Homo sapiens: one gene and its partners. The protein of the gene in region 3 purifies or fractionates together with the protein of the main gene of each other region. This does not show direct contact. Each region holds a gene or a part of one and is shown on either strand. Other genes may lie near its edges. The genes, in order: PPFIBP1, DDHD2, RAPGEF5 and CCDC88A.

Region 1 (7,032 bases), on a different chromosome or scaffold from region 3:
ACTCAGTTGGACTGAAAGAAACTTAAGTCTAATTTGAACTAACTTTAGCAGAATTATGGTTTCTTTCCATATGGTAACCAATGAGAAGAGGGCAATATGTTGTCACTGAGTGTAGGAAACAATCAAAGCAAAATTCCTGTTTTCTTTTACTTAGATACACAAATAGTGTTCTTGTTCCGGGGTGGGGGCAGGGTGCGGAGGGGAAGATGAATGGTTTTTTTTAAATAGTACAAGGAGCTCTACTGTGTTCAAAGACAACATATGGCAAATGAAACTGTTTGGTATTTGAAGAAGGCCAAAGAGAGTTTCCTCCTTGATGTAACCTATGTCCAGTGTTCCACCTGTATGGGAGGGGCTATATGTAAAGGGTTTCTAGTCAGTCTATTATACTGTTAAAAGATTTGGTATCAATGTCTTGTACTTTATGTTTGCCAACCCCACCCTCTTATGCACAGTGAGTCAATGTAGTAGTTCTAAGCCAGCCCTAAACTTTGGTTAAGAGTGTCAGAGCAGTTCTTAGAATCTTAATGGATAAAATATTATATAGTCCTGATAAATACAAGGATTCTGATAGCATTTTTGTCTTTAAGTGCTTTCATAGATTCTGTTACATGCTAATGTTTCTTGAGTAGTTATTATCTGCCAAATATTTAACACATATTAACTTATTTAACCTTCATGGTCAGCTTTTGGGGTAGGTACTAATTATGATGATGAGGAGACTGAGGCACAGGGTGTGGAAGCTGTTGCTCAAGGTCACCCAGCTGGTAGAAAGTGGTAAGGCCAGAAAGCAAATCCAAGTGGTCTGATTCTAGAACATACTCTTAACCACTATGCTATCCCATCTTTCCAAAGTTATGCTTTAGAGTACTTGTAATTACCATCTACGTAAAATTTAAGTCTGAGAGCCATTCTAACACAGATGCTGCTGACACTTTAGCTCTGGCCTCTCCCCTAGTTCGCACAGCCCTCACCTTCTGTTTGTTCATCAACCATTGACAAATTGCACGGCTCTAAAGATGATGGCCCCTTTCATTAGGCACAGCATTAAGCAATGACTTTGTTTAACCCAATGACAGTACTAATACTGCAGGACTCATGAGGCTATGATGCTTGGTAGAGATGCAAAAGTCTATCAGTTGGCTCTTCTTACCTGTTAGACTGTCCCAAGTCTCGAGACCAACCTAATCGGGGCCCCGCGGTTGCCCTTGTCCCTCCTCTTTTGAATTCAGGCTCAGACATGTCATCTGGGTTGAATGTAGTTGATTGACTTCTCCTAAGTCTAAAGAAGACAACACACATGGCCAGTATTAGACCTGAGGAGGCCTTAGACTTGTTAATCAGAACATTTTTAACTAGTGCACCTACTGGAACTAATCCTCTTTGTGTTGTTAACATAGACATTTAAATTTAAACTTTAACTAAGACCCAATGAGTTAATAAATCCCACATCACAATCCAAACTTCCTTCCATAAGAGGAATACAAAGGCCTTACAAAGTCCATACCCATGTCCAGCCACTTTTAAGCAACATGTAAGACAGGGCCCATTCCACTTGTTTACTGCTTTACTTACTTTCCAAAGAGTTTCATGATACCTCTGGATTTCTTTTTGGAATCTGGAGATGGAGGCGGTATCTGGAAGGGACTGTTCCTCTGTGAATCTTTTGGCCGAGAAGAAGCACCAGCCAGATCTAGGTGCTCTGCTGTCTCTTTTTCTGTTTCAGCTACTCCAAGAGCAGAATGCAGACAATGAATTTTAAAATATGGAATAAACATGATGTTAATCTTCTTGGTTCTAGAACTGTTAAGAATTCTTCTGTTGGTCTATAATCAGTGACTTACAAAGAGCACCTTGTAAATATTAGAAATGGAACACACATATACGTTCTGCTCCATAGTTTACTGTGTGTAAACTTAATAAAATTACAAGCCCTTTGGAGATTAAAAGAATGTGATAGGATTGCCACATTCTTTCCTTGAGTGATTTCAATTCATAATGGAATTATTCCCAATCTTTCCATAGCACGTGGTACTGTTGATTACCTGCTACATCCTTCAAAATCATCTCCTTTTGCTTCTTGACATGACCACTCTCCTACATCTGTCATCTGATAGTGTCTTTGCTGTAGCACCCCTGCTTTTTTTTCTTCCCCCATGCCACTTTAAGATTATATTCTAAATGCCCTCTAGAGGATCAGAATCTCTGGGCCTAATCTCTCTCTCTAGGCTCTGTATCTAAATGCCTGTGATATTCCCAATTCAGTGTGTCGGGACATCTGGGACTTCACAAACTCATCCAATTTCCCCGAGAGTCTTTTTCTCTCTTAAATGTTTTTTTTTTTTTTTTTTTTTTTTTGAGACAGAGTCTCACTCTGTTTCCCAGGCTGGAGTGCAGTGACATGATCTCGGCTTACTGCAACCTCCGCCTACTGGGTTCAAGCAATTCTCTGCCTCAGTGTCCCAGGTAGCTGGGATTACAGGCACCCGCCACCACACCTGGCTAATTTTTGTATTTTTAGTAGAGACAGGGTTTCACCATCTTGGCCAGGCTGGTCTTGAACTCCTGACCTCGTGATCCACCCACCTCGGCCTCCCAAAGTGCTGAGATTACAGGCGTGAGCCACCACGCCTGGCCTCGTCTCTTAAATGTTCTTATTTGATATTTGGTTAATATTAATTAATACTGTCCCTGTTACTCTAGCTCAGACTCTATGTCATTTTCCTTTTACTCCTTCTCCTTTGGCATTTACATCAAATCAGTTACCCAGTTCAAGCAATTCTTTATTTTTGAAATGTATTCCAATCTATTAAATCCTAGGCACTGAGAGAAGAATGAACTGGATATGCCTAATTTTTCTTTTGACATAAAGTAAGTGCCTGTTGATTTTACCTTAAAAGAATCACATCCACAGTTGCCACTCTCAGATCTCCAAGCATTAACTATTTCAGTTCTTTTAGCTGTCCCTTAGTGGACAATCCCATACTAGCAAACACAAGGGCTACTGTTGTCTTCAGTGTGAGATTTTATACTTTATAAAAGAAAGTAAAAGTTGTACTAAAATCACAAGAACAGTGTTTCAGCAAGATCTATGAGTTGCAGAAAGTTGATTTTTCTACAAAGCAGAGCTGTGATTATAGGTTATAATAAGCAGCATTTACCTCTTAGCATTAACAAAACAGTTCTTCTAAGAAAGATGCAAAAAAAAACTATTTGAAAATAGTTGTCTGAACAGATCAGTTTATTTTATGCATCCAGTGTTCATTCTAGACATTTATATCGATAGAGAGAGAAGTCCCGTTTGCTGGTCCATGTGAATAGATAGGTGGATATCTATACAAGGTAACAGCACCTTTTGGAAAAACCCAAAGGAACTTTCCCAATTCAAATCCTTCAACCACGATGGCTACAGGTGCCCCTGAAAATGCTGCCTAGCTTATCCTCATCTTAAAACTACCATATTTCTCTTTTTTATTTTGAGAACTTTTTTCCCCATTTGTCCCCTGCCTTACAAAGAGGAAAACTGAGCTGCCCCTCTTCTAAAATCACTTTGGGGGGTAACGCCTCAGATATCAAGTAAAGTTGCTTCTGTCATCACTAAATATTATCTCCATCTTCAAAGTAATAAAACGTCAGAAGAATGTTCCCCTAAGAGAAGTAAGCCTAAAACTATAATATTCAATGTCTTCTATAAACCTCCCTATATGGCCAAAAAAATTTCTTTTTGGAGGCTGGGGGAAATGTAAGCATGGAGAACGGACTGCAAGGACCTGGGAGTTAGTGTGTGGTAATATGCACTTCAAGGCTGAAAGAGCTGCAATGTACAATGCCAGGACATTCCTGCCCTGCACTCTGAGGGATGCTGCACACGTCTAGGTCCTCTCAAAGCTATTCACACAGTGAGTGTTACTAGTATTGGTTAAAACAGCATTTAGGCTTGGAAGCAAAGCCTCTACAGAGTCCTTTTTAGCAGAAGGTGGAAAGAACACTCCGGAATAGAGAACTACATTTTCTGATTGCTGTCAGATCGCTTTCTAGAGATCACAGATGCCAAGAGCAGGGATTAGATTGGTTTGGAGCACAGTGCTGGTGAAGGCTGGCATGCAGGGGTACAATACCTAGGGTGGGTGCACTGGCACTTCGTTTACGATCTTCAGATATCCCAACAACGCACACAATCACACGCAGCCCAATGGAGAGAACACAGAGATGACAAAATGAAATGCAGATCAGACTCCTCCTCGCCAAATACACACCGTGGAGGAGAGGCATGCGGCACACAGTGCTTCTGATGTTACACACAGGCTCAACGTCAATGTTAATTTATCCACTATCACAACAGATGGGAAACTCCATGATGAAGTCAAAGGGAATCATGATTTTAGGTCTTTCCGCTAAGTTTATACCACAGGAGAGAGCAGGGTGAGAGTCTATATATCTTCACAACACTAAATTAAATCCACGGAGGCATTTTTTGCTAAATTCCCCTAAGTCATTCACCTTCGTTTCTGAGAAAGAGAAATGAATCAATGAATGAAAGAGTAAGGGAAGGGAAGACACTGCTCTTTTCCTCCTTGTGGAAGAATTAGGGCAAAGGCATTTTGGTCATACGTACCTAAGTTTGGTGCACTTGCTGTTCTCTTGTTACTTTTGATTTTAAAAAAGCCCCGGCCAAAGGAAGATCTGACTTTTCGAGTGCCGAAGGGGTTGTCATCCATGGAGGTGTCCTGCCCTGGGGGCCTGGGAGGAAGGGTCCCAAATGGCCTGCTTTCTGCCGGAGCTCTGTCCTGAGAGGCAAATAAGAATAGTGAAACAGCTCTCAGGTGCAGCATCCTCAGCACATGCCAGGCTAACAGCAAATACTCACTCACGCCACATCCATGAGTTTATTCAAAAGAATAACTGAACTAATACATTGATCACCAATGTCAAATGCCTTATCAGAAGTTGAAAAAAAATCAATTCTGAAAGCTACTTAAGAAACAACAACAAAAGCAACAAGGAAAACATGTTCATCACTAATCTAGAATCGATATGTCTAGGGCTTTAAATATTTAGGATACAAAAATTCTTAAATTTTGTTTGCCTCATTCCTCAAAAGACATGGAGACATTACATAACCAGAATAATAGCAGCAGATTTCTGACTTTTCTAACAATTATGTCACGGATTTAGCTATAATACAGTTCATATTCTTATATTATAACTTTGTCAATAGAAGCCTAATATAATATTAATTATTCTACAAAGCAGGCATTAGTTCAAACTTCTATACCAGCAGTATAAGGAGATTCTATTCCAGTTATTTTAAATATTCTCCTCAAAGAATAAGAAAATGAAGGCACAGTGAGCAACTTTATTTTGAGCTTTTTGGTTCTTTGAATGGGCAATTAGAGCCAGCTGTAACACAGTATATTATTTTAGTATTTATACAAAGATGCTTTGCCTAGATCAATGTCATGAAGTGTTTCCCCTATGTTTTCATCTAGCAGTTTTATAGTTTCTGGTCTTATATGTAAGTTCTTAATCCATCTTGAGTTGATTTTTGTTGATTTGGTGACAGGTGAAGTCCAATTTCATTCTTCTACATATGGATATCTAATTTTCCCAGCACCATTTATTGAAGTGGGTGTCCTTTATACAAAGATACTTTTGTCTTCTTGTTTTCATTTCTCTATTCTTTCCCTCTGCTTCTTTTTTTTGCAGAAGTAGAAATAATTCTTGCCCTCTGCTTCTTTTTTTACAGAAGCAGAGAAAAGGGTGAGGGGATATAGGTATTTTAGGTGGTTATTTTACTCTATATATCTACAGCTCATAGAAACCAAAAGTTTACAGATGGCACAATTTAGTGATATTATCATCCATGGCTCAACAATGACGTCAAAATCATTTAACCATTTATTGAACTGAAAAGACAACAAGGATTTTAATTATAGCTGTCACCACTGGCTGCTTTGTCAATTCTATCCACATATGACTCAGGCACTAAGAGCCAACAGTCAAGAGACTGGATCTGGAGGTAGCCTATCAGGCTGTAATCTTCACAAGGTTAATGACAGAAAATCAGAGGACAGAACAGGCACAGTGGCTCATGCCTGTAATCCCAGTACTTTGAAAGGCAGAGGTGGGAGGATTACTTGAGCTCAGGAGTTCAAGATCAGCCTAGGCAACATGACAAGATCTCATCTGTACTTAAAAAATAAAAAATAAAAAAAAAAACAAACGAAAAAAAAAAACAGCCGAGTATGGTGGTGCACGCCTGTAATCCCAGCTACTTGAAAGGCTGAAGTGGGAAAATCACCTGAGCCCAGGAAATCGAGGCTACAGTGAGTTATAATTGCACCACTGCACTCCAGCCTGGACGACAAAGTGATACCATTTCAAAAAAAAAAAAAAAAAAAAATCAGGGGAAAGAAGAATTGAGCACATGTTGACGACATCTTTAAACATACCAAAATGTTTGCTTTAGATGGGCACCGGGTGTATAATCTAATGGTAATCTAAGAAGGGCTTTTGGGGAGGTCTAAGGAAGCTCAGTTATGGTCATTAGGAACATTAAGTAGCATGACTGAGAGACTATGGTTTTGTTTTTTAATAACTTACTGAAGTGAAATTCATAACAAAATTAACAATTTTAAAGTGCACAATTCAGTGGCATTTAGTATGTTACGATGTTGTGCAACCACCACCTCTACCTGCTTCCAAAACATTTCCATCATTCGAAAGCAAAACCCCTTACCCTTAAACAGCTTCTCCCCATTTTTCCCACCTCTTACCACTGGTAACCACCGATCTGCATTCTATTTCTATAGATTTATCTGTTCTGGATGTTTCACATAAACGGAATCATATAATATGTGAACTTTGTGTCTGGCTTCATTTAGCATAATGTTCTAGAGGTTCTGAAAGTTTTTATCTACTGGAGACATTTAAGCAATTTACATGTAATGGAAGTAGAAATATTTTTGCATTGTAATTTGGACAAAAAGTTACCTCTGAAGTCTTCTGAATAGTTTCCTTTTCCTGTTCAAA
Region 2 (7,032 bases), on a different chromosome or scaffold from region 3:
TAAGTAGGAAAAGTACACCGTGTTGTAAGAATTAACCTGGTCTCATAAGGTGCAGGAAGGCTTCCCTAATCAAATGAGTGATAGCTGGCTGGGTGTGGTGGCTCATGCCTGTAATCCCAGCACTTTGGGAGGCCGAGGTGGGCAGATCACGAGGTCAGGAGTTCGAGACCAATCTAGTCAACATGGTGAAACCCTGTCTGTACTAAAAATACAAAAATTAGCTGGGTGTGGTGGCACACACATGTAGTCCCAGCTACTTGGGAGGCTGAGGCAGGAGAATCGCTTGAACCCAGGAGGTGGAGGTTGCAGTGAGCTGAGATCACACCACTGCACTCCAGCCTGGGCGACAGAGCAAGACTCCATCTCAAAAAAAAAAAAAAAAAACGATGAGTGACACTTGAGATCTTGATTGTTAGTCTGTTCCATACTTGTGTGTTTGCTGTATGTTCTCAGTGCTTGCGTTCATCAGCAGGAGTATAATCCTTCTCAGGCATGTGACATCTAAGTCAGTATAGAAATCAAGGAAGTTTTTTTGTTTTGTTTTGTTTTTTTGAGACGGAGTCTTGCTCTGTTGCCCAGGCTGGAGTGCAGTGGCGCGATCTCGGCTCACTGCAAGCTCTGCCTTCCGGGTTCACGCCATTCTCCTGCCTCAGCCTCCTGTGTAGCTGGGAATACAGGTGACTGCCACTGCGCCTGGCTAATTTTTTTTGTATTTTTAGTAGAGACGGGGTTTCACCATGGTCTCCATCTCCTGACCTCATGATCCACCCGCCTCGGCCTCCCAAAGTGCTGGGATTACAGGCGTGAGCCACCGCGCCTGGCCAGAAATCAAGGAAGATTTTTATGTCCTGAAGTCCTTAGATACCCAACTTCTCTGTTTTTTTTTTTTTTTTTTAACAATAACAATGTCTATATTATTGTAACATTGATATTATAAGTATTGATATTTTCTATTCTTTTTTAGGCTGTTTCATGAATAAAACAGGTCCTTTTTTCTGGAAGTTATTCTATGATGTTTTACTACTAGAGAGACAGGCAGCAACAGAGTGCCTAGGCCTTGTTCCTCTTAGGGGACAGGATTGATTTTATTTTGTCTAGAAATAAGAAAGACTTGATTTTCTATGCCTAGGCTTTATGTACAGACCGAGATCTTCAGGAAATAGGAATTCCTTTAGGACCAAGAAAGAAGATATTAAACTATTTCAGCACCAGAAAAAACTCAATGGTATGTGCCTAATACAGCTTGTTGGACTAAACAATTCTTTGATGTCCATAGTGTGTCCTTGTGCTTTGTGGGATGTTTACTCTGGGGAGCCAAGCAGTTTTTTGGTAATTGATCTTTGGCTCTTTTTTTTTGAGACAGGGTCTCGCTCTGTCACTCAGGCTGGAGTGCAGTGGTGTGATCCCAGCTCATTGCAACCTCTGCCTCCCGGGTTCAAGCGATTCTCCTGCCTCAGCCTCTCGAGTAGCTGGGACTACAGGCGCCCACCACCATGCCTGGCTAATTTTTGTATTTTTAATAGAGACGGTGTTTCACCATATTGGCCAGGCTGGTCTCAAACTCCTGACCTTGTGATCTGCCCGCCTTGGCCTCCCAAAGTGCTGGGATTACAGGTGTGAGCCACCCGCCTGGCCGATCTTTGGCTCTCTTTCTAGAAATTAAACACATTTTCTTTTTTACATTCTTTTTTTTTTCTTTTCCTGGAAATGAAATCTCGCTGTGTTGCCCGGGGTGGAGTATAGTGGGTGGTCTCGGCTCACTGCAACCTCCACCTTCCAGGTTCAAGCAATTCTCCTGCTTCATCCTCTTGAGTAGCTGGGATTCCAGGTGTGCACCACCATGCCCAGCTAACTTTTTGTATTTTTAGTAGAGACGGGGTTTCACTATGTTGGCCAGGCTGGTCTTGAACTCCTGACCTCAGATGACCCATGTGCCTCAGCCTCCCAAAGTGCTGCACCGCTCCTGGCCCTTCTTTTTTTACATCCTTAAAAGTATTATTAGCTTCAGAAGTCTTCTCTCCTCTGGAATTCTCCTACCATTTATTTATTTATTTATTTTTTGCTTTTTTCTTTTCATGAGAGTTTTACCAATATCTACTTCACATCACATACCATAAAATTCACCCTTTTAAAGTTTACAATTTAATGGTTTTTAGTATATTCATAGAGTTATGTAACCATTACCACTATCCAATTTCAGCACATTTCCATTGTCCCTTAGGGAAACCCCATACCCATTTGCTGTCACTCCCCATTGCTCCCTGCCCCCAGCCTCTGTCAACCACTAATCTACTTTCTGTTTCTACAGATTTGCTTATTTTGGACATTCCATATAAATGGAATGTCCTTTTGAGCCATGTGTCTGACTTCTTTCACTTAGCATAATATTCTGAAGGTTTACCTGTGTTAACAGTACTTCCACATTCAGTTTTTCTGGTCACTGAATTTCTAACTCCATATCTTATTAGTTAGTTTTTTTCTTTTTGAGTCGGAGTGTTGCTCTGTCGCCCAGGATGGAGTGCAGTTGCACGATCTTGGCTCAATTGCAACCTCCGCCTCCTGGATTCAAGTGATTCTCCTGCTTCAGCTTCCTGAGTAGCTGGGATTACAGACACGCGACACCACACCCAGCTAATTTTTGTATTTTTAGTATGGGGTTTCACCATGTTGGCCAGGCTGGTCTTGAGCTCCTGACCTCAAGTGATCCGCCCACCTCAGCCTCCCAAAGTGCTGGGATTACAGGCGTGAGCCACCATGCCTGGCCAGTAGTTAGTTCTTTTCCAACTTTTTAGCAGGTGGCTCATTTCTTTTTAAAGACTCAGTTCTTGGCCCAGCCCATCGACATCCTACTTCCCTTGATTACAGAGGCACAGCACTTCATAGAACTCTAGCAATCCTCAGCATTATCTTCCCACAGTGCCCTGCTATTGTTTTCTCTTATGATTGTTGCCTAAAGTTTCAACGCTACTGAAATGGCTATGTACAACTTTCATCATTTTAGAGCATCTAAGAATGTCAATTAACAATTTAAGGCAATAATTTAATCTTGTTTTCTGAGGAAATCTTCCTAGAATTTTTGGCTGCCATTTCAGAACTTTCCCAAGGGTCCTTTCAAACCAGTAGAAAACTATATAATCCTTTGGCTATACTTTTACTATATAGTAGCTCCCCATACTTTTTTTTTAAATAGAGACTATGTTGCCCACGTTGGACTTGAACTCTTGGGCTTAAACAATCCTACCTACCTACCTACCTCAGGGTCCTGAGTAGCTGGGACTACAGGTGCATGCCGTCATGCCCAGCTTCTCCACATAACTATTTTTTATTCTTTAGGGTATTAAGAGACCAGCCCCGCAGCCTGCTTCAGGGGCAAACATCCCCAAAGAATCTGAGTTCTGCAGTAGCAGTAATACTAGAAATGGTGACTATCTGGATGTTGGCATTGGGCAGGTAACTAATTCTCTTTGATCATTTTACAGCCTGCTATTTGTATGGTAGAAACAGATGTAACTTTTGTTATTAATGAGAGATGCTTTTATTTTCCTCCTTTGAGGTGTCTGTGAAATACCCCCGGCTCATCTATAAACCAGAGATATTCTTTGCCTTTGGATCTCCCATTGGAATGTTCCTTACTGTCCGAGGACTAAAAAGAATTGATCCCAACTACAGATTTCCAACGTGCAAAGGTTTCTTCAATATTTATCACCCTGTAAGCATTGTACAGCTATTGTGGTTTTACCTAAATATCAGGGCTTATTGTTAAAGAACATAGGATTTTCTGTTGTGTTGATTTTTTTTTCCTATTCCATTGTCTAGCAATGAGACAACTTATAATAGTATTGATTTGGAAGTGATGGAGCAGAACTGTACATTTTTTTAAATGAACTTATGATTATTGTTTAAGATACATAGTTCTGGTTGTACATGGTGACTAATGCCTGTCATCCCAGCACTTTGGGAGGTCAAGGCAGGAGGATTGCTTGAGCCTAGGAGTTGAAGGCTACAGTGAGCCATGATTGCACCACTGCACTCCAGCCTGGGTGACAGAGCGAGACCTCATCTCAAAAAAAAAAAAAAAAAAGTTATATAGTTTCCAGACTGTGCTTAGCAGAGGTAAATGTAGCTCTTGTTTTTCCTATGTAGTTTGATCCTGTGGCCTATAGGATTGAACCAATGGTGGTCCCAGGAGTGGAATTTGAGCCAATGCTGATCCCACATCATAAAGGCAGGAAGCGGATGCACTTAGGTAAGTCCGAGCATAGAACTTGATAATTCTAGACCTTTTGGCCAGTGCAAAGGGCATCATTCACTCTGTTCAGCTATGTTGGACCCTAAGCTCTTTGTAAATCATTTAATGTTCTTTATTTATATGTTTCAGAACTGAGAGAGGGCTTGACCAGGATGAGTATGGACCTTAAGAACAACTTGCTAGGTTCGCTGCGGATGGCCTGGAAGTCTTTTACCAGAGCTCCATACCCTGCCTTACAAGCTTCAGAAACACCAGAAGAAACTGAAGCAGAACCTGAATCAACTTCAGAGAAGCCTAGTGGTCAGTGACACTGTACACATTGACCAGCTGCCAGATAAGAGGGATGCCATGGTGTGGCGTTTTTCATAGTTAATTTAATTTAATTTCACATTTAATTTCATAGTTAATATTGCATTCTTTTGCTTTAGTTTTCAACTTCTAAAGAGCTCTATTCCTGCTTGCATTTAGTATAAACCCAAGGCAAATGACCTAGCTATCAATGGTATAGGTAATGAGATGTGTTGCGCAAAAGCAAAAAAGGGGATTGGACAAAATTACTGTGACCTGAGAAGGAGCTTGAAGGAGATTGAGAGGAGGAAGATGGGAGAGAGCTCTCTGAACAGAGAGTAGCTCATTCTCTGGTAAACTTGGAGTGTGAGGAGAAGTTAACAGGATAACCCTGAAGGCCAAAAGGTTTTAGATTCTTATTATGGTTCTTCCATATCCAGATGTTAACACAGAAGAGACCTCTGTGGCAGTTAAAGAAGAAGTCCTGCCTATCAATGTGGGGATGCTGAATGGAGGCCAACGCATTGACTATGTGCTACAGGAGAAGCCTATTGAAAGTTTTAATGAGTATTTATTTGCTTTACAAAGCCATCTATGCTACTGGTAAATGTTGTTTATTTTTGTCTGTTTTGTTTGTTTACCTGTTTCATAGATATTTGATAGATGTAGAAAAAGGAGGATAGGCCAGGTGCATTGGCTCAGGCTTATAATCTCAGCACTTTGGGAGGCCAAGGTGGGAGGATTGCTTGAGTTCAGGAGTTTGAGACCGGCCTGGGAAACATAGCAAGACCTCATCTCTACAAAAACTAAATTAGCTGGGCGTGGTGGTATGCGCTTATAGTCCCAGCTACTTGGGAGGCTGAGGCAGGAGAGTCACTTGAGCCCAGGAGTTTGAGACCACAGTGAGCCATGATCACACCACTGCACTCTAGCCTGGGTGACAGAGCAAGACCCTGTCTCAAAAAAAAAAAAAGACCTGTGTACCTTTGGAATTAAAATGACTTCTCATTTAGACAGCACAAGCACAATCATGTCATTTCAAGAATCTGGTTTAAACACACTGTTGTTTTATTTTGCAGCTGGGTAGAACATGGTTGAGGCTAATGATGCCAACAACCATAAGTTCAATTATCTTGGTGTTAAAAATGTGTCTTTTGGCCATTTAGGTGCACATGAATGAACTGGAACAAATATTACTGTTGCTGGAAGTCTTATAGCAAACCCATTTGAAAGCATTTATGGTAGCTGTGACAGAATTAATTATTATTATTTTATCATTATTTGAGACAGGGTCTTGCTGTGTCACCCAGGCTGGAGTGCAGTGGCATGCTCATGGTTCACTGCAGCCTTGACCTCCTGGACTCAAGTGATCCTCCCCCCTCAGTCTCCCTAATAAGTAGGATGACCGTTGTGCACCACCATGCCCAGCTAATTTTTGTACAGACAGGGTTTCGCCATGTTGCCCAGGCTGGTCTAAACTTCAAGCAATCAATCCGCCTCCACCTCTGCCTCCCAAAGTGCTGGAATTACAGGCATGAGCCACCACGCCTGGGCAGAATTATTATTAAATATAATTGGTTACCTGATGGATTGTAGAATGGATTAATGATGCTTATTGAAATTCAGGCCGGGTATGGTGGCTCATGCTTATAATCCCAGCACTTTGGGAGGCCGAGGAAGGAGGATTGCTTGAGGCCAGGAGTTGAAGGCTGCAGTGAGCCATGATGGTGCCACCGCACCCTAGCCTGAGTGACAGAGCGAGACCATGTCTGAAAAAAAATAGTATAAAATAATACTAATTAATCCCTGAAGAAGTTGACATAAAAATAAAGTAAGGGAAATAAGATGGGTCAGAGATAAGTGTTTTAAAAATGAAAGCTCAGACCAGCATGGCCAACATGGCGAAATCCTGTCTCTACCAAAAATACAATTAGCCAGGTGTGGTGGTGCATGCCTGTAGTCCCAGCTACTAGGGAGGCTGAGACAGGAGAATTGCCTGAACCTGGGAGGCAGAGGTTGCAGTGAGCGAGATCACGGCCACCGCAGTCCAGCCTGGGTGACAGAGCGAGACTCCATCTCAAAAAAAAAAAAAAAAAAAGCAAGCTCAAAGGTCCTAAGAATAATTTTTCCCTTGAATTCTGATGAGGAATTATCATCTGATGCAATCACTATCGTTTGTATATAATATATACAGTAGAGGCCAAAAGCAATCTTGTAAGGGGCTAAAATAATGCTAAGAATGATCTCTGGTGATCTGGCTTGATAGAAAAGAAAGCAGAGTTCTTTTAATATTTCTGTGTGGGCAGTACATTCATATGGTTTGAAATTCAAAGAAAGAAAAATAATGAAAAGCCTCTTTTTTATTTTGTTTCTTGCAATCAGTTTCTTCCCCATATACAACTAATGTAAAATGTCTTCCAGCCATCTATTTTATGCCTCCATAATAAATATATGTATGTGAATATATTCTTTCCCTTATTTTAAAAACATAAATA
Region 3 (5,451 bases):
GGTGAGGTTTATAATCCCCCTGCAAGGGGGAGATGGACACATGCCAAAGGCCAAACTTGACCTCGATGGGCAAGATGTACAAATTTCCTGTTTACACAGAGAGAAGATGCTGAACACTCAGTCTGCGCTAGTGTATATACCGCCTGGCATCCCACTGCCCCAGAGCATCCTTATTATCCCTGTGCTGCTCCATCCACTCATGGCTCTTCCGCTGTCAGGACCTCTATCCTGGGCCCCGGGCATCACCACTGGGCTGGTAGCTGCACTCAGTATCTGGGCTGGTGAGGGACAGTTCCTGGTCCTGCTCAAGTAGGGTGAGGCAATGACAATGGTTGCCAGATTCCCCAGATTTCAGACTCTGAGAACACTGATGCAATTTCCAAAATAGGGTGTTTAGGTTCTGCAATAACCCAATGGCAGGATAAGTGATTTAGGCTTCTATGGGCTGCCTGAGAACCTCTTCATCTACTTGTAGCTCTTTCAGTGAGCAAATGACTTCTGAGTTCCAACCCCCTGAGCATCATATGCTGCCAGAACAGAGCTATTTAATCCACACACATCACAGAGAAAGCAAGAAACTAAGAGGCATGAATAGTGTCTTTAACATAGTCTCATATTTGGAAAAGCAGTTTTAAAAAAAAATTGAAAATACAAGATAAGGTAAGGGTTACTTATATAAGTTTTAACCTTATATTGCTTGGCCATTTTTACATATAAATTATTGCTTACTAGCTTCGATAAATACACAGCACAGTCATATACATATATATTATATATATACACAGAGGCAGAAAGCATGGAATATGGGAAAGAAAACACTGTTAATGGCAATTCTGGTAACTCAACAAATGTTTCATATTTACCAGTTCTTTAAATGGTGGAAAACTACCAAGTGTAGTCCCTGAGAAGTTAGGTAGACACCCTGATGGCGGGTTCTCTATCTTCTAATTGTTAATGCAAGCTGACAATATCACAGCAGCCCTAATTAATGATACATTAAAAGGCAAGATTTCTTGCTTCAGGTCACTGATTTCATCCCAGTATTTAATAACAGTGTGATACGAATACAATAAATAGACTATGCAAATAAATATTACTCTGCTAAAAAATGTTTAGTATATACAGCTTTGCTTTATACAGTAATACATTTGCATCTAACTTTTTGGCAATTTTTAAAAACTTCCCCCCCGCCCCCCCACCAGTTTTAAGCAAAACTGGCCCACTCGCTAAGAAGCAGGCTGAAATTTTAAGGACATGTTTTTGAAACATTTAAAAGAAATCCTGTGTTGGACCACTGCGGAAGACCCGATCGTCCCCATTTTAATGTTTTTGCCCAGTTTCTGAAAAGCCTGGATTGGCTGCGCCATTTAGGAACATTCAGTTCCGGATCTGCGGTGTCTGTGCTGGCTAGAACAGACTCGCAGGGCTGGGATATGGGTAGCAGTGAAAGCCCAGCTCCAGGGATAAGAAGTCATCACTGGTACTCTCTCTTTCATGCCACGATTTCTCCTCCACTCAGAGGCAAGTATATATTCATGCAGCATCCTCTCCCTGTGGACTAGGCAGTGTGAGCACTGACCTTATCCACATGCTTCTAAATTCGGTGTATGCTCCACACTACCTGTTTGTGGTTCTCGGTCTAGGGAAATGAATTTATTCTAAACATAATTAAGGAAACTAGAAAAAAGTGAATGCAGGTCATGTGTATCACTATAATCATTTGGCAATTATACAGATGACAAAGAGCAAATTCAAAACACCACACTCTAGGGAACACCTGCAAATGTGTATGTAAAACAAAATTTTTTTTAATAGCAAGGTTGTGATTTTGCCTACGGGGTCCTGCATTCTGCTGTCTTGTGCTAACTTCTAAGCAGGGCTAGTTTGCTGGAATGCTGACGAATCCAAAGACCCACAGGACTGTCTGAGAGTTGTGCTGTAACAAAAAGAGCCCACTTAGAAGTGCCCCTGCACCACCTGGTGCCGAAGGTGCCAGATTACGTAAGATTTGCAGAGTGAGCGAAGATTTTATGCAATAATAAAACTCCAAATGAGAGCTGGCAAAGAGCTTAGCCATCTTCTAGACCACGCTTCTAGCCAGAACAAACCCTATTCTGAAGAGGCCTTGGTGAATATCCAGAGAGGGTGCATGGCCCATCCTATTAACAAGGAGCACTCAAGCCCCACCACTGTCCACCAGTGAACAGCTCAGATTCCTTAGAAAGAGCTTTCTGTTGAGTAATATCTGGTTCTCACAATTCGGGCTTGAATTCTTTAATTCCAGATCTAAGATTCTGCAAAGCTTTGGAAACTTCTGAGAGCTGCTGCCTGGCAAACCTCTGGAGACAGTTGTTAAACTTCAGAAAGATGCAGAGATTTTAGACATTCAGAAGACAAGGATGGAAAAGCAAATCTTGACTGCACAAAATCCTCCCTTCCCTCTGCTACCCCTAGGACCACCTAACCACGGCTGGAGGAAGAGGTGAACAAGCATCATTTTCTCCCCAGCCAGTTTACACCCATGTCATGTGAGATACTCTGAAGTCACTGTACAAAATGCATTTAAATACCACATTTGTGTAGCTTCATCTGGCTTGGTGGGCATATCTGACTTGGGGTCTGAGCAGCATGCAATATGCTGAAATAGTTCTCCATGGAAAATTAGTCCCCTAAAGGTAATGTTCTACTAGGAGCAATGTAGTTCTAATGTAAATAAAAATCCAAATTTTGAAACACAGAAACAATGTCAGGATGGCCTTATATGATTACACTGGCCAAACCTTAGTCCAGGGCATAGGAAAAAGGTGAGAACACGTGCTTGTGCTGTAAGCCCATGCTATTGTTAGTAACTGCGTGAGGAGGGCTTTGGAGGGTTTGCTCAGCCCAGCCGTGAGGGAAGTCTGCTCTCCGGTTCTCACGGCTCTGGTGTCCTGTGGGCCACATTCCATGACGGCAGCATGCAGCATTTCTCTGAATGGACCAGCCCTGGAGGATGCCCTTCTATAAAACCCTATAAATGTTCAGGACTGAAGTTTTACATGCTGGGCCAAACTAAGTCTCTCTCAAAGTTCTCCCAAACCTTCTCTCCACATGGTTCCTTCCAGCAGTATCTCAAGCTCAGTGTGGTTCCTGAGCCCAGGAAACAGCACTGCTATAAAGATGTCAAAAAGCATTGGACACGCCTCAGTAATGAGGATGAATGAGGCGTTGATGAGACAAAAAGGAAACAGGTCTGTGTGGGCATGAAAGAGATGAACAGGCAGGAAGAGTGAGAAGTGCACCAAGACTCCTGCATTTGGAAAATGAATGGACCAGGCCCTTGCATTTTAGCAAGGTGACAAGTATCTAGCAGGCAGGGGTGGATTTCATTATTTTGACCCATAGGCTGTTTTGTTCATGTGAAGGTTGAAAGAAATCCTCTAACCAGTCCTTGAAAATATCAAGAGGTCTTATTTGCTACAGGAGCCTCAATTGGTAAAAATGGGAATAATAAGATTTTAGAAGACTCAGATTTTGAAAAAAAAAAAAAAAAAGGCAAATTATAGAAAGGCTCCCTGCTTTGGCTGGTAGTTGGATTATAGGACTTCTAAGTTGCCAACATTAATCAGACATTTGGCTATTTCAGGGCATTTTTCATTTGCCAAAACACTAGTAATTACCACTATCTTATTACCTAGAGAGTGCTAAGTGCTTCACTCATTAAATGTCACTTAACCTCCCTGCACTGGCTGCTGTCATTCCATAGTGTGGGCAAGGAGCCTGTATGAGGTACGCAAAATGCATCATCAGGCACAAGAATGCAGACTTTTGTGACTCTGTCACCTCAGCAAGCAGTTGGTGAGTGTTTGCAATGTGTCAGGCACTGTGCTTTTTCAAAATCATATTATGTCCAATAAAAGATAAGAGCCTGCTTAGAAGTATAAAGAAAATCCCCAGAAATTAAACAATGAGTCAATTTCTTAAAGATTACTATTTTTCCTTACTGGCAAAGCAACTTCATCTACCTTGCCTATAGCTGCAAATCAGTTGTACAGAAACTAATTTCACCTGCAAGCATGTGTCAATAGTTGATTGTGGTGCAAAGTGATGCACACCTTGACATTGTTCATCTGCCCATCAGAGCATGGATGCTAGCTGCAGTCCTCACTAACTCCCTAGACACAAGTGGCTTTTGGTGATGTCACAGGTTGTATCAACAGAAACCTCTCCTCCCTGGAGATCTAGAGATGCTGTCTCTGTCATCAGGTGTTCAAAAGAATGACTTCTTTGACAGCTTATGGACAGTAATCTAAAACTAGGCAAAGTAAAAACTCCTTCCTGTTTCATGCACGCTCTTAATGAAATATTTGGTCATTGCATGTCAAGACGTTGTCTTGTCTTGATGCTGGCACATCTCATATTGAAAACTGGACTGGATCAACAATGTGATCATAAGAAACCAGCCTTCTCCATCTCAAGAATGCTTCTGACTCTCCTTCTGCCTTCTTGTCCCGAGAGTAGCATGGAGAAACCTCTCCCCCTCTCTGGTGGCTGACATCACTTCCTGAACACGCTTTGGCTGGCTTTCCTGTGAATGTCTTGGGTTATACTGATAAAACTCAGCAACTTCTTTTCTCACAGGAAAGCAACGTGCTTGGCATAGACATTCCCGTAGCTCAAAGTGCTGCAGATACAGGGGAGGTGAGGCAGTGGGGCTCACACCCGAGGCTCGATCCTGTGTGAGAGCTCAAACAGAGCCTGCTGGCTGTCAATGACATACAGGTGATTAACATAGGACTTTAACTCTTGATGCTCTTTTGGAGACAGGTCACCTGTTGTTTAGAGGGGGAAAAAAGACAATCTCAGGAGAGCAGTAATGCTGTATCTACATACCAACAAAACCCCACACTAAGGCTGAGTAAATGTACTAGGTGGGTTCTCATTAGTCAGAATCCCATAAGAGGTGTCCTTGTCCTACAGTAGAAATGCTTTTTCAGCTCAGAATGGATTCCTCAGGTCAGGCAATCAGACTGGCAGGATACTTATAGCATTTATTACCTAACATTGTATATTATTTAGAAATTACGTTATTATCTCATTCCACAGATGGGGAAACTGAGCACAGTCACGCAGCAAGTTAACTGTCACAGCCAGGATTCGGACCCAGGACAGATGGTTCCTGAGCCCTTTTAGGTAGCCTTTCACAGCAGTTACCTGTTTAAATGGCCAGCACTGGGTCCTATATCTCAGTCTAGAAGCGTTGAAAATCGCTGATAATGTATTTAGCATATGAATGCAATCACTCTTTTTCTGTTGTTTAGATTTTGTACAATTCTTTGGTATTCTCATTTTTTGGAAAAAAAAATTTAATGGAGCAACTGAATGAACAGATACAACAGAACAGACTCTAAGATGTGGTTAACAGACGAAATAGCTTCAGAAAGTATGTGTATGGACTAAAGTCTACCCAGA
Region 4 (7,032 bases), on a different chromosome or scaffold from region 3:
TTATTAAAATGTAGTTAAAGTTATAACCTAGTTGAAATAACTTTTTTCCTTTTTTTTGCTAATACTTTAAACAAAACCTTAAAAGGGAGTAGTAACTCTTTACTTGTGAATACACATTTAGGTTTGAAAACTGGGGAAAATCATATCCATTTACTTTTTAATAATGAGCCTGAACTTTAGTGCACATTTCTTCTTATAAATATATGTTGACTATAATACTTCTCTCCCACAAGATCCCTTCTCCCAGTGAAAGAGGCCCTATGATACTGATCTGAAGAACTAGAGGATGTTCTTAGAAGTTTAGGCACAAGGAACTTGTTGTTCATGTTTATAAGTCTACAGAAGAAAAAAATAAAAGGTCCCTCTCAATGCTTCTTTAGCAGAAATGCAGACTGCCCAATGTGACCTTCTGCCAGAATGCTAATATACTTTTAAATTGAACTTAAAGGGTTATCACATATTATAATGCTTAGAGATGGGAAAAAAAGAGCCAAACATATACCTTCTGACTTGCATCAACCATGTTTCACAGGACATACTGCCAATTTACTCCTGTAAGTTTCAGAATTCTTCTTGATACATAGATTCAAGCAAATACTAGTTGCTCAGTGTTGAATGGTTGAACCTGATTTGCATTCTCTGGCTTTGAGGTCAAAATTCATGGGGCTTTGGAGTCTGAAAAATCTGGATTTGAATCCAGTAATCCAACTCTGCTATTTATTAGCTGTGTGATCCTAATTTATTTAATGTTTCTGAACCTCAGTTTTCTCATCTAAAAAATGGATATAATACTTATAAAGGATTAGTTGTAAAGATTATGTGCATGTATATATGTGTGTATATATATTTGGGTGTGTGTGTATATATTATTTATGTATATACAACTTATATGAAGTTTTTAGCCCAGTACTTGGCACACAGCACTCAATAAATAGTAGCTATCATGCTTCTTTATTATACTTAGAATTTAGTGTCTTGATCAAACATTATTATATTGAAATAAAGGTTTAAAATTATAATGTAATAAGTCAGATACCACTAGGAAACTTTATTACTACAAATTCTTTTAAAAATACAATTTATAGGTATTTCTTAGTTTAACAAAGTAGGAAACTTGGAAGCTATTTCTAGTTCTAATTCCAAAATTCTACTGAACCATAAAATAAATGATGCAAATTACTGATAGATTCCAATAAAACTTAAAGAAACCTTGAGTTAAAAATATAAAAAAAAATTTGCCTTAATTTAGGTAAACATATTTACCTCACGTAGTGTAACCAACGTTTTTATATCAATAGTTGCTCTTTTCACAAGCTCCTTATTTTCTTTTTCTAGTTCTTTCAGACGGACACAAGATTCTTTATATATACCAATTTCTTTGGATAGGGTTTTGTTTTCTTTTTCCAAATTTCCAATCTTCACATTATTTTCTTCTAATGTGGTATCTTTAATTTCTGCTTGTTGTCGGAGTCTCTTATTTTCCTTCTCCAATTGTTTCTTATCCTTTTCCAGTTGAGAAGTCTCTTGCTCTAATGATTTATTTTCTTTTTCCAGCTGTTCTAGTCTTTTGCTAGATATTTTTAGTTCTTCTAGGTTTTTCTGCAATGTTTGATTTTCCATCTCTAAGTCTTGTAGTTCACTCTCTAATTGCTGGATTTTTTTATTGCTGTTCTCTAAAGTTTTTTGCAGTCTTTGATTTTCTATATCTAAACCCTGGTAGCTAACTTCTAAGCGTTCTGTTTTCTTGAAAGATGCTTTCAGGAGCTCCAAACCCTTCTTAAGTTGCTCTTTTTCACTTTCCAGTTCTTTGTTTTCTAGCTGTAGCTGAGCCATTTTCATGCTTGCACACTTCAAAGATTCTACATTCCTTCGCAGTTCTAAGTTTTCCTCATCAAGTTGGGAATTCTCTTTTTCTAGGGATTCTAACTGAAAGGTCAGATTTTTAAAGCTATCCAATGTTTTTTTTAATTTTCTATTTTCTCTTTCTAGCTCTGAATTTTCTTGTTCTAAGGCCTCAATTTTTTCACAAGTAATTTTTAAATTAGTTATTTTTTTCTGTAATAATTCATTTTCTTTTTCAAGATGATGCAATTCATTTTCAAGTTCTTCAGCTCGTTCTCCTTTTTCTTTATAATGTTCCAATTCTTTTTTAATTTGTCTTTTTTCAAATTCAATCTTGCTTAGCTTGCTACTTGTTTCTTTGATAGATTCATGAAGAATTTTGTTTTCTTTTTCAATGTCTTTCACTCTTGCTTCTGCACTTATCTGGGACCGCTGCCTTAAGGAAGACACTGTTTGATTCAGATGTTCATTTTCCTGTTCCAGTATCTTAATCTAATTTGAAAAGAAAATAATTAAAAGCTGTAATTGAGGAAAAACTAACTATGGTTTATCTCTTCCAAAAACTACCAAGAAAAGGGGAACAAAAAAAGGGTGCTAGAACATGTCTTACTTTTAATTCTGACAAGTATTTACTGAAGACCACTGTGTACACTTACTGTGAGGTCATTTACTGAAGACCACTGTGTACACTTACTGTGAGGTCATTAAAGTTCATGTTTTTAGGAAGTTCACAGTTTAAAGGAACGGTTGAGAAATGTATTTTCTATTAATCATAATGGTCTTCAGATTATTTACAGTTACATGCTTCAAATTCAAATAGGAATACAGGTAACACACACACATACCTCCTTGAGAACATAAGGTTCTACTTTTACTAAGTAACCTTTGCAATGCCTACAGTGGGTCCTCAGTAAATATGTGCTGTATTACATGTGTATATATGGGTTTGTATGTGTGTGTATTCATTCCCAAAAAGAATTCTAAGTAGGAAGCATCAAAATCACAAAAATCACTGGGTACATTTGGGAACTAATTCATCCAATTTATAGCGTGATCTAATACAATGATTCTCAAAATTTAGTGTGTTAAATAATCTCAACAAGCTTGGAAAAATGAAGATTGAAGCTTAGTCTAGAATTTTGGTTCTGTATCTCTAAAGAAACCTTCATTTTTATGGCTGGTCTGAGGACTGTACCTGGATGATATAAACAAATAATTTAACTTCTAAAAAAATTAATGCTCAAGCATGGTGGCTGGCACCTATAATCCTAGCACTTCGGGAGGCTGAGGCAGGAATATCACTTCAGCTCAGGGGTTTGAGACCAGCCTGGGGAGCATAGTGATACTTTGTCTCTACCAAAAAATAAAAAAAAAAATTAAAAAATTATCTGGGCATGGTGGTGCATGCCTGTAGTCCCAGCTAAGGTGAAAGGATTGCTTGAGCCTAGGTGTTCGAGGTTGCAGTAAGCTATGATTGTGCCACTGCACTCCAGCATGAGTGACAGAGCTGGACCCTGTCTCAAATAAATAAATATTTCAAAAATAAGTCAATTAATCTATGCAGTTCTCAGTTTCCTCAAACATAAAATGAGAATGAACATTAAAGAGCTGAAAACAAATTTGGTAATATCCAAGACAGTGTGGTTGCCACCACATTTCTCCCTCTTTGGTAGGTCAGAGGACAGCTCCATTTCCTGGCCAACTCCACTCAGGGACTCTAGAATCGGCAGCCCTATTCCACAGACACTTGAAAGCACAAGTACTGCAAATGCTTATACTAGATGATTATTAAGCACAATGGTAGTTTAAAAAACTCTAAGCTTTCTCTTCAACTTTCCTAAGACACATAGGTTAGAAAATGAGGTAAAATTATAATTACTTTAAAATAAAAAAATTCTAAAATATTTCCCTTTAATGTTTATATGAACATTTTGTTTGCATATATTTTAAATAACTTTTGCTAATAAATTTTAAAATACATTGTTTACTTAGTAAAAAATGTATGAACCTGTCTCTCTGAATTTTCTCTCAGTGTTTCTATTGTTTTTTCAAGCTGAGCTTTCTCCTTCATTAGATCCTTGCTTAAATTCTGACAATTCTGAAGACTTTGCTTTTCTTGAACAATCTCATTTTCAAGAATCTCAACCTAGAGAAAATTAAATCACAAAACAATACGTTAAATATTCTGTAACAGTGAAAACATGTCAAAACAAAACATAATCGCTGAATAAAGGATAAAATAGTGTTAATATCCAAATGCTAAAATTTAAGAAATTAGTATAGAAATTCAAGTAGCATTCCATGCTAATTTCTGTAGCTGTATAAAATATGCAGACATGATTTCTTATCCTTGTGCATCTTTTGGGGTAAATTTCACTTTCTAAACACAAAGACAAATCCAGCTCAATAAATGATAATATGCTATATGAGAACTATACAAACTTTATTTAAAGATTCACTTGGCTTGAGTGGATTTGTAAAGTAAAATTTTACTTATACTCAGAGAATTTCAGTGAGCAAGAAGGCAGGAGAAGATATAAAAAGCATGAAGGAAAAGATGATAAACAGTACAGTATAAGCTTAATGAAAAAAGAAAGGACTTCCTTTAAGATAAAAAAGGAGAAAAATACTACCATAAAAAAGGGCTAATATTTATATTTTAGGTTCAAATTTCTTTTCAATTACGCATTTTAGAGATGAAAAATACTGGTAGTTAATATGTACAAAATAGCAAATTAAAGTTAAAAATATGCTAAGACTATTGATTTTCCCATTATCATATAACATATTCAAACCAGGCAATTTAAAAAATCAAGAAGACTTTATAAAACATTCTACTGCAAGTTAAATGTTAAATTCTTATGTCAATAATGAAGCACTCTAAAGCAATTTTAATTTTTCTATTTTAACATTAATGGAAATAACTACACACAGAAACAATCTTCCAATAATATTTCCAGCCTGGGCAACACAGTGAAACGATGTCTCTACCAAAAACAAAACAAAAAACAAAAAAACTTAGCCAGGCATGGTGGCCTGTGCCTGTAGTCCTAGCTACTTGAGAGGCTGAGGTGGGAGGACTGCTTAAGCCTGAGAAGCAGAGGTTGCAGTGAGCTGAGATCGCACCACTGCACTCCAGCCTGGGTGATATAGTGAGACCCTAGCTCGAAATACTACTACCAATAATAATGATGATAATAATAATAATAATATGAAAAGCATCAGGTCAAAAAACTTATCCAATAACTCAATTCAACATTAATTTACAGTTCAGGAAGCTTTCAGCTGTGAATAATTAATCAGGTTCTCACATTACATAGATGGAAATATAAGAATAACAATTATTGAAACTCATTTGTTGTTTTGTATCAATGGGATTAAAGTGAAACATTCAGTTTATAAAAAAATCATTTTTACAATTAATCAAAAATTGCTTGAATCACTAAGAATTTACATATTAAACTTCAAAGCTAATTTCAAAAAGAAACTGTACTCTACAGGCCCAATTTTAATGACAACCAAAATAAAACTGTTCTAAATTCTAAATGGTCATCCTACTTTAACACTATATTGTCAAACGCTTATTAAGATTATTTAGTTAATGGACTGAAGACAATGTAAAAACATTTTTAAACAGTAAAAATCTTACAAGAATACTAAGGAGCCTCTGAATAATCTAAAGCAGTGGTTCTCAAAGCATGATTCCAGGACAGCAGGATGAGCATCACTTAGGAACTTCTTAGAAACAATTCTTAATCATGCATGTTTTTATGATGGGATTCTATTTATGTAGAATTATGTGTGCAGAAAGATATGCAAAAATAAAACACTTGTTCTTGCACAACTGAATATTTCTGTTCAACCAGAGTCTGATTAAGATTCAGGTTTCATAATGCCTAAATTGTGGTCTCTAAATATCATTTCCCACTAAAAGGAATAAGGGCTAATTTCAGAGAAATGGCTGTCTCCAGGTCTGGGACAGAAAATGTTCAAGATGAGCCTAGAATATTTTGTCATGGCAGAAAGCAAGAAAGCTCTTAAGGAGTGCTAAGGCCATGTCATAAGGATTCAGGACCAAAGCAGCTTTTAAAGAGGCTTCCACTAGCCCGAGTTGAGACAGTAAGAAAAACAAATGCAGTGGATTGAAACAATACAAATATTTTTAAATTCATGGGTTCATAATGACACTAAAGAAACTCACTCACTAGTTCTCTCAAGAAGATATGAGAGAACCAATTCATTATTTGGAAACTGGTAAATGTAACTCCTCTAGCCCTGCTTATTCTTTTTTTTTTTTTTTGAGATTTTGAGTCTTGCTCTATGGCCCAGACTGGAGTGCAGTGGCGTGATCTCAGCTCACTTCAACCTCCACCTCCCGGGTTCGAGAGAGATTCTCCTGCCTCATCCTCCCGAGTAGCTGGGATCACCGGCGCCCACAACCACACCCGGCTAATTTTTGTACTTTTAGTGGAGACAGGGTTTCACCATGTTGGCTAGGCTGGTCACAAACTCCCGACCTCAGGTTATCCATCTGCCTTGGCCTCCCAAAGTGCTGGGATTACAGGCGTGAGCCCCCGCACCTGGCCAAGATCAGCTAGTAAGTTCTTAATTGCTGAAGCTGAATAATGAGTATAGGGTTCATTCACACCATATTTGTGTATATTTGAAAATTTTCATAACAAGTTAAAATAACATTGAGCGTGCATTTAAAAAGTGGAAAATAAATGGGCTATTTATTTACACTTTTACAAGTTTTTTTAACATTAAAATAAACACTACATTTTAATTTACCTTTTTACTGAGCCTTTGATTTTCTTTTTCCATTTTCAGGATTTTGGAAGCATTGCCTTCTACAGAATCCACAGTAGTCCGAAGCTCTTCTACGGTTTTTGTCAAACTTTGATTTTCCATCTCTAGCTTCAATAATCTACTTGATGTCAACTCATTCACCTCATGGCCCAGGGATTTCTGGGGTGCTATAATATTGAAAAATACACCATTGTATTTACTCTTTACTGTTTTTACTATGTTTACTCTTTACTATTTAAAAAGTTGAGTGTATATGCATTGCATCATCTGATCCTTAACTTTATTAAAAATTCAATGAGGTTATATAAGATAAACAAGATAAAAGAAGTAAATCTTTTTTTTCCTTTTCTTTTTTTCTTTTTTTTAAAGAGACGGGGTCTC

What was found.
Region 1: the proteins of RAPGEF5 (region 3) and PPFIBP1 purify together in Homo sapiens (affinity purification with mass spectrometry; 2 studies listed by BioGRID and IntAct, with this or other methods). This does not show direct contact.
Region 2: the proteins of RAPGEF5 (region 3) and DDHD2 purify together in Homo sapiens (affinity purification with mass spectrometry; 2 studies listed by BioGRID and IntAct, with this or other methods). This does not show direct contact.
Region 4: the proteins of RAPGEF5 (region 3) and CCDC88A purify together in Homo sapiens (affinity purification with mass spectrometry; 2 studies listed by BioGRID and IntAct, with this or other methods). This does not show direct contact.

The regions. Positions count from the first base shown.
Region 1 is NC_000012.12:27,674,183-27,681,214, reverse strand, and holds part of PPFIBP1 (liprin-beta-1), read right to left. Parts: intron 7,024-7,032; coding exon 6,994-7,023; intron 4,788-6,993; coding exon 4,616-4,787; intron 4,509-4,615; coding exon of another isoform or gene 4,441-4,508; exon of another isoform or gene 4,152-4,440; coding exon 4,119-4,151; intron 1,727-4,118; coding exon 1,576-1,726; intron 1,283-1,575; coding exon 1,154-1,282; intron 1-1,153. UniProt on the Homo sapiens protein: May regulate the disassembly of focal adhesions. Did not bind receptor-like tyrosine phosphatases type 2A.
Region 2 is NC_000008.11:38,248,579-38,255,610, forward strand, and holds part of DDHD2 (triacylglycerol hydrolase DDHD2), read left to right. Parts: intron 1-1,129; coding exon 1,130-1,225; intron 1,226-3,333; coding exon 3,334-3,450; intron 3,451-3,553; coding exon 3,554-3,709; intron 3,710-4,143; coding exon 4,144-4,246; intron 4,247-4,378; coding exon 4,379-4,549; intron 4,550-4,977; coding exon 4,978-5,140; intron 5,141-7,032. UniProt on the Homo sapiens protein: Diacylglycerol (DAG) and triacylglycerol (TAG) lipase required for proper lipid homeostasis in the central nervous system. It cooperates with PNPLA2/ATGL in neuronal TAG catabolism and hydrolyzes sn-1,3 DAG downstream of PNPLA2/ATGL.
Region 3 is NC_000007.14:22,117,711-22,123,161, forward strand, and holds the end of RAPGEF5 (rap guanine nucleotide exchange factor 5), read right to left. Parts: intron 4,812-5,451; coding exon 4,696-4,811; 3' UTR 526-4,695; downstream 1-525. UniProt on the Homo sapiens protein: Guanine nucleotide exchange factor (GEF) for RAP1A, RAP2A and MRAS/M-Ras-GTP. Its association with MRAS inhibits Rap1 activation.
Region 4 is NC_000002.12:55,332,831-55,339,862, forward strand, and holds part of CCDC88A (girdin), read right to left. Parts: exon of another isoform or gene 6,819-7,032; coding exon 6,634-6,818; intron 3,989-6,633; coding exon 3,851-3,988; intron 2,335-3,850; coding exon 1,264-2,334; intron 1-1,263. UniProt on the Homo sapiens protein: Bifunctional modulator of guanine nucleotide-binding proteins (G proteins). Acts as a non-receptor guanine nucleotide exchange factor which binds to and activates guanine nucleotide-binding protein G(i) alpha subunits.